Homo sapiens: one gene and its partner. The protein of the gene in region 1 interacts with the protein of each later gene in a pairwise test. Each region holds a gene or a part of one and is shown in the gene's direction. Other genes may lie near its edges. The genes, in order: ABCD1 and SLC25A17.

Region 1 (3,814 bases):
CTGTCCTTTCTGGGATTGCCGCGAGGAGGCTTATTGAAACGCACATGCACACGATCTCTTGTTTGAGAACAAAGTAAAGCTCTCTTGATAAGTCTAAGCATCATTTACAAGAATGTGGTTCTTCTGGCAGCTCTGCCAGTGTGGTCCAAATTCCCACACTGGTTGCCACCATCAGGCTGTATGGGCTTGGGCAGGTCACTTTGCCTCCCTGGGCTTCAGTGTTCTGTGTACAGTGGGCACGTGAATACACATGCAGTGGGATGTGGGGAGAATCAAATGCAGAGACGTGAAAGCACTTGGCAAACAGTGGCAGGCTAGGCAGCTGTCATCAGACGGCTGTGGGGAGGCAAGGCTGGGGTGCGTGCCCCTGGACTGAGCCCAGAAATTCACAACCCCTTGGCTACCTTGCTGGGAGCACTTCCCAACACCTCCCATCTCCCCCGCCTGTCTGACTGCTGCTGCCACCTCTTCCCTGCGGCTGTCCCTTTCCCCACCTGCTGGTGTCCTGACATAGTGGTGGCCAGTGCAGGAAGGGGGACAGAAGGACAGGGGAGGCCTACCCACTGCTGAGGGAGCAAGGTCCAGGCTCAGCAGTGGGGACATCCACTGGGGCGAGTCCTGTAGGGCCCAGCTCAGGAGCGCATCCTCCTGGTTTCAGTGGGAAAATGCCATGCAAATTTCTCACCAAAAGGAAGTGTGGGAAAGTTGAGGGGAAAGAGGGCGTAAATAGGCCCAGACTGTTGAACCGAGTTTTTCAGAACCAAGAGACAGGGTTTCACTGTGCTGCCCAGGCTGGGGTGCAGTGGCGCCATCACTGCAGCTTCAAACTCCAGGGCTCCCGCGATCCTCCCACCTCAGCCTCCCGAGTAGCTGGGACTACAGGTGTGTGCCACCACACCTGGCTAATTTTTTTTTTTAATTATTTTTGGTAGAGACAGCATCTCGCCGTGTTGGCCAGGCTGGTCTCCAACTCCTGGGCTCAGGCAATCCTCCCACCTCAGCCTCTCAAAGTGCTGGGATTGCAGGTGTGAGCTACTGCACTCAGCCCAAGAGCACTGCCTTTTGCTGTCCTGCGCTGCTCTTTGCTTAGTTTAGGGGGGGAAATTAGAGCTGATGGATGATCTCTCCGAGCCAGGAGGAGGGGGCTGGCAGGGAGCCCAAAGAAATGGGCTCAGCAGAGGACAGAAACAAGGTGACTAGAGAGGGAGTGGAGAGGGGACGGGAGCCGCACTGTGACATCAGCCAGTCCCTTATACCCCCTTACACCTTGAGTTTGAGACCTGGCCCCACCCAATCGTAACCTCTGGCTCTCGGCCTTCTGATGGCCACCATGGCACAGCGTGTGTGAGTGGCACTGGGAGACCCTGACCATCGCCCCCACGGGAGCTGCCCCTGTGCATGGCCAGGAAGCCTCTCTGTGTCTGTCACCCCCCGCAGGTGGAGCTGGCCCTGCTACAGCGCTCCTACCAGGACCTGGCCTCGCAGATCAACCTCATCCTTCTGGAACGCCTGTGGTATGTTATGCTGGAGCAGTTCCTCATGAAGTATGTGTGGAGCGCCTCGGGCCTGCTCATGGTGGCTGTCCCCATCATCACTGCCACTGGCTACTCAGAGTCAGGTGAGACCCAGGGCTCCAAGAGGATCCAGGCCAGGGGCCTGTCCCCCATACCGCTGGGTGCTGAGCTCACGAGGGCCCAACTCAGCCAGCCCGCCGCCCACTTCTGCTGCCGGGGCCACCGAGGCCCTGCTGCCAGCCTTGATGCTTTCAGAGGTTGAGCTCGCCTTGCCCCTCCTTGTTGCCTTTTGCCCTGCGCGCACCTCACGCCCTTTGTTACCACTCAGACAAGCCCAGGACTGCAAGTCAGGAACACTACATGTCACTTCTCCAGGCACAGATACCCTCACCCACCTGTCCCTGTCCTCAACCCAACTGCGACTTAGAGGTGGGAGAATGTGCGGAGTACCTGGAGTGAGCCCCTTCATCACTCCAGCCTTGGTTTCCTCGCCCTGAAACAGCTCTTGCACCCTAAGGTGTTTTAGAGGAGTGGGAAGCCTGTTCTACCTGTTATTTTAGTGATAAGATTAAATGTTTAGGTTTCTGCATTCCTGTTGTTTTTGTTTGTTTGTTTTATTTTCTTTTTGGCTTTTGAAACAGGAGTCTGACTGTCGCCCAGGCTGGAGTGCAGTGGCGCGACCTTGGCTCACTGCAGCCTCAACTTCCCAGGCTCAAGTGGTCCTCCCACTTCAGTCTCCCCAGTCGCTGGGACTACAGGCACAAGCCGCCGTACCTGGCTAATTTTAATATTTTTGGTAGAGACAGGGTTTCGCCATGTTGCCCAGACTGGTCTCGAACTCCTGGTCAGGTGATCCTCCCGCCTCAGCCTCCCAAAGTGCTGGGATTACAGGTGTGAGCTGCCGCGCCCGGCCTGCATTCCTGTTTTGTTCCTCTGCCGGATTGCAACTTCTGCATTTGATTTTTAGTCCATTAGTGGTCACCCTTTAAAAGGTCAACACGCAGCCGGGCGCGGGGGCTCCCGCCTGGCATCCCAGCACTTTGGGAGGGTGAGGCGGGCAGATCACGAGGTCAGGAGGTCGAGACCATCCTGGCTAACAGGGTGAAACCCCATCTCTACTAAAAATACAAAAATTTAGCCGGGCGCGGTGGCGGGCGCCTATAGTCCCAGCTACTCGGGACGCTGAGGCAGAAGAATGGCGTGAACCCGGGAGGCGGAGCTGGCAGTGAGCCCAGATAGCGCCACTGCACTCCAGCCTGGGCGAAAGAACGAGACTTCGTCTCAAATAAAAATAAAAATAAAAAATAAAAGATCAACACGCATACTTGTTAGGTTAATCAATAGCTCCGCCTTCTCCTGGACCTTAGAACGCAGAAGCAGCCCCGTGGGGCATGGCATCATAGCCCAGCCAAGAGTTGGATTTGTACCTAGTTTTTCCTCTTTGCTATCGCCTTATCCACACGTGTTGAAACTCACTCGCATGTTTGCTGAGTTCTGTGCTCACCATTTCGTTCCTACATCTCAATTTCTCTTCTATGTTCTGTTATCTTCCTCCAGATAGACATGTTTTTAGTTTTTTGTTTGTTTGTTTTTTAACTCACAACTATGCTCAGGACAAACAGTCATCAGTGCTTCTAGTTGTGGTTGGTTTTTAAAAAAGGTTCTTTCAGCAAGGGTTTTGTCATGGGAAATTCTTGATTATTTTATTGTAATTCTTTGTGTTGTTTAGTTTTTTGTTTGTTTGTTTGTTTTTTGTAGAGGCAGGTTCTCGCTGTGTTGCCCAGGCTAGTGTGGAACTCCTGGGCTCAAGCGGTCCTCCCGCATTAGCCTCTCAAAGTGCTGGGATTACAGACGTGAGCCACCACACCCAGGCTGTTGTCATTCTTGATTATTTTTGTTGAAAATGTTTCTATTTCACCCTTATTCCCAAGCTAAAGTTGAGTTGCGCAATGGAGTCTAGGTGGACTGTTCTTTTCTCTCAGCCCTTTCACAATGTCTCATTGTCTCCCTGCTTCTTCTGTAGCTGCTGACAAATCTGTAGCTGCTAACAAATTGTCCTCCCTGAGTACCCTGTGTTTCTTTTTTTCTGGGTACTTTGATCACTTTCTTTCTTTTTGGCATTCTGCAGTTTCACTATGACATGTTTAGGTGTCAGTTTTTGTTGATTCTGCTTGAGACTTGTTATATGTCCTTTGAATATTTGAGTTTTTCAATCATTCTGGAAGATTCTCAGCTATTAGCTTTTCAGATATTGCCTGACTCTCATTCTTTTTTCCTGTTCTTCTAGAACTGGCAGCCAG
Region 2 (3,814 bases), on another chromosome or scaffold:
TGGACTTTTTTGTGAAATATGTGGGCTCAGTTCACAGTTCTGTGTAATCCAGAATTCCCAGTGATGGTGATAATGACTTAGGAGGATTCGATCATCAGGAACAGTTGCCTGTGATTGAAGTTGGTCTCTCAATAACTTGGTGACTGTCAATGTCTGATTATCAAAAAGTAATTAACCGATAAACTTGACCCCAAACTATCATTGCAAGAAAGAAATCTTTTTTTTTTTTTTTTTGGAAATGGAGTCTTGCTCTGTCACCCAGGCTGGAGTGCAGTGGCACAATCTTGGCTCACTGCAACCTCTGCCTCCCGGGTTCAAGCAATTCTCCTGCCTCAGCCCCCCAAGTAGCTGAGATTACAGGTATGCACCGCCACACCTAGCTAATTTTTGTATTTTTAGTAGAGACAGGGTTTCACCATGCTGGCTGGGCTGGTCTCAAACTCCTGACCTCGTGATCCACCCGCCTCGGCCTCCCAAAGTGCTGGGACTACAGGCGTGAGCCATTGCAACCGGCTGCAAGAAGGAAATCTTTATAGAACCAGTATGGTTTGTGTTCTGGGTACATTTCAACAGAATTCATGTTGTCTTCTCTAGTTGGGGGATTGTGATCATGCTTTTCAAAAGTCCCTGATTTCTTGCTTAGATGCTTTTCATCAGATCATTCGCGATGAAGGAATCTCGGCTTTATGGAATGGCACATTTCCCTCATTGCTGTTGGTCTTCAATCCTGCCATCCAGTTCATGTTTTATGAAGGTTTAAAACGGCAGCTTTTAAAGAAACGGATGAAGGTAATCCTTGATTTTGAAAGCAGTAAAATAATTCTGTCTGACACCTTCTTGTTGACTTGATTGATATGGTTTGTTCTTCCTTTGCTTTCCAGCTTTCTTCCTTGGATGTGTTCATCATTGGTGCAGTAGCCAAAGCGATTGCCACCACGGTGACCTATCCCCTGCAGACGGTACAGTCAATTCTGAGGGTGAGTGCTGGAGTTCTCTTCGCATTTAGTCAAACAGCATTCGAATACATGTAGTCTCTTGATTTAAAACAATGTTAATAAAGCAATAAAGCAGTTAGTTGGTATACCAGAATATTCCCTATCTGTTTTTTTTCTTTTCTTTTTTTGAGACAGGATCTCCCTCTGTCACCCAGGTTGGAGTACCGTGGTGCACCATGGGTCTCTATACCCTCGACCTCCTAGGTTCAAGCAGTCCTCCTGCCTCAGCTGCCCAAGTAGCTGAGACTACATACACCACCTTGTCCAGCTAATTTAAAATTTTTTTGTGTGAAGATGGGGTCTCACCATGTTTTCCAGGCTTGTCTCAAAGTCCTGGACTCAAGCGATCCTCCCACCTTGGCCTTCCAAAGTGCTGGGATTATAGGCATGAACCATTGTGCCTGGCCCCCATTTTTTCATTTGTTTGATATTCTGCTTAACTAGGCTGGCTGTCATTGGTTTAGAATGAAGTTTGCATTTGTAATTTCTTAGGTAACATAATGTCTCAGAAAACACAGATGTGGAGACAAGTTCCTTAAAGACCTCAGGAAAGCATAAGTTTGCTTCCTTCTCATTCAAGTTGATTGGTTTGGTGCCCCAGCAGGGATTATCCTTTACAAAGTCAGAGGTTAATTCCTTTAGTTCACTCAGGAGGAATGAATGATTTAGCTTTTTTGAAGCACTCTCAAACTTCTGTTTTTTATTTCATTCAGTTATTTATCCATTCAAATATTTACTAAGCATCCACACTGTGGGAGGACCTGGGCATGCAGTGGTAAATAAAAGTCATAATCCCTGCCCTTATGGAGCTAGTGGAAGAGAGAATGAACAGGTAAACAAGCAAAATAAATAGGTAATTACAAATTGAAAAAAGAACTATAAAGGAAATTATTTACTGGAGAGGGGCATGGTGGGGCTCTTCTTAGATAGCATGATTGGAGGTGGGCTTCTTTGAGAAGGAATATTTAAATCAAGATGCAAAGGAGGGTAAGGCCCTAGTGGGGCAGAGTGGACGAAAGTGCATTCCAGGCAGGGGGAGCATGATGTGTGTGTTAGTCCATTCTCATGCTGCTCTAAAGGACTGCCTGAGACTGGGTAATTTATAAAGGAAAGAGGTTTAATTGACTCACATTTCAGCATGGCTGGGGGGCCTCAGGAAACTTACAATCATGGTGGAAGGGGAAGCAAACATGTCCTTCTTCACATGGCGGCAGCAAGGACAAGTGCAGGGGGAACTCCTCCTATAAAACCATCAGATCGGTTGGGCGCGGTGGCTCACGCCTGTAATCCCAGCACTTTGGGAGGCCGAGGCGGGTGGATCATGAGGTCAGGAGATCGAGACCATCCTGGCTAACAAGGTGAAACCCCGTCTCTACTAAAAATACAAAAAATTAGCCGGGCGCGGTGGCGGGCGCCTGTAGTCCCAGCTACTCGGGAGGCTGAGGCAGGAGAATGGCGTGAACCCGGGAAGCGGAGCTTGCAGTGAGCCGAGATTGCGCCACTGCAGTCCGCAGTCCGGCCTGGGCGACAGAGCGAGACTCCGTCTCAAAAAAAAAAAAAAAAAAAAAAAAAAAAAAAAAAAAAACCATCAGATCTCATGAGACTTATTCACTACCACAAGAACAGTATAGGGGAAACCACCCCCATGATTTAGTTATCTCCACCTGGCCCTGCCCTTGACTTGTGGGGATTATTACAATTCAAGGTGAGATTTGGATGGGGACACAGCCAAACCATATCAATGTACTAAGAATTTGGTGTATCCTAGGGACTGAAAGAAGGCCTCTATGGCAGTAGAGTGGCTCAGGGTGAGATTGCAAGAGCAGCAGGGAAACTGTAGGTGAGGAATGTAGATTTTTATCCTCAGCACTTTAAGCTGAGAATATGTGATGGGAAGGGCTTTAAGCTGGGGAATATGTGCTGTGATTTACAATTGAAGAAGACTGTTGTGGCTATTATGTGGTGAATTGGTCAGAAAGCTAAGAGAGAAAGCCAGGGGCAATCTAGTAGGAGGCCATTTCAGTAATACAGGCAAGAGAGGATGGTGGCCTGGACCACGGTGGTGGCACTGGAGAGGAGAGGGGTAGGATGAGGACAGATTCAAGATCTGTTTTGGAGAAAAATTTCAAAAGGCTTGTTGCTAGATAAAATAGGGGTGGTAGTGAGAATATTCCAGTTCAGAAAAATTAGTACCTTCTGTTAAAAGCATTTTTACTAATATATTATTTTAAAATTGGTACTTAACATAAGGGAATTCAGTAGCATCCTTATAAATGTATTTTAACACTTTTATAATGTAAACACATAATCTGAAGAGCTTAGACTGCAGATGTTCTAAATGATTCATTTCTCAGAATTTCTTAAAGAAGTGGAAGTTATTACCATCAATATCTAAATCATCATCCTGGGCATATTTTTTTCTTTTGAGGTAGAATTTTCCCTATACCTCTCTATAAAATGAAAATTATTATGCTTGCTTCATTGAAAAATTTTTCTTAGGCCGGACATGGTGGCTCATGCCTGTAATCCCAGAACTTCGGGAGGCCGAGGTGGGTGGATCATTTGAGGTCAGGAATTCGAGACCAGCCTGGCCAACATGGTGAAACCACATCTCTGCTAAAAATACAAAAATTAGCCGGGCGTGGTGGTACATGTCTATAATCCCAACTACTCGGGAGGCTGAGGCAGGAGAATCACTTGAACCTGGGAGGTGGAGGTTGCAGTGAGCCAAAATTGTGCCATTGCACTCCAGCCTGGGTGACAGAGTGAGAAGATGTCTCAAAAAAAAAAAAAAAGGAAAAATTTTTCTTATTTTCACT

What was found.
Region 2: the proteins of ABCD1 (region 1) and SLC25A17 come close enough for resonance energy transfer, tested with the Homo sapiens proteins (one large-scale study listed by BioGRID).

Annotation. Positions count from the first base shown.
Region 1 is NC_000023.11:153,727,795-153,731,608, forward strand, and holds part of ABCD1 (ATP-binding cassette sub-family D member 1), read left to right. Parts: intron 1-1,437; coding exon 1,438-1,618; intron 1,619-3,814. UniProt on the Homo sapiens protein: ATP-dependent transporter of the ATP-binding cassette (ABC) family involved in the transport of very long chain fatty acid (VLCFA)-CoA from the cytosol to the peroxisome lumen.
Region 2 is NC_000022.11:40,774,203-40,778,016, reverse strand, and holds part of SLC25A17 (peroxisomal membrane protein PMP34), read left to right. Parts: intron 1-643; coding exon 644-789; intron 790-881; coding exon 882-977; intron 978-3,814.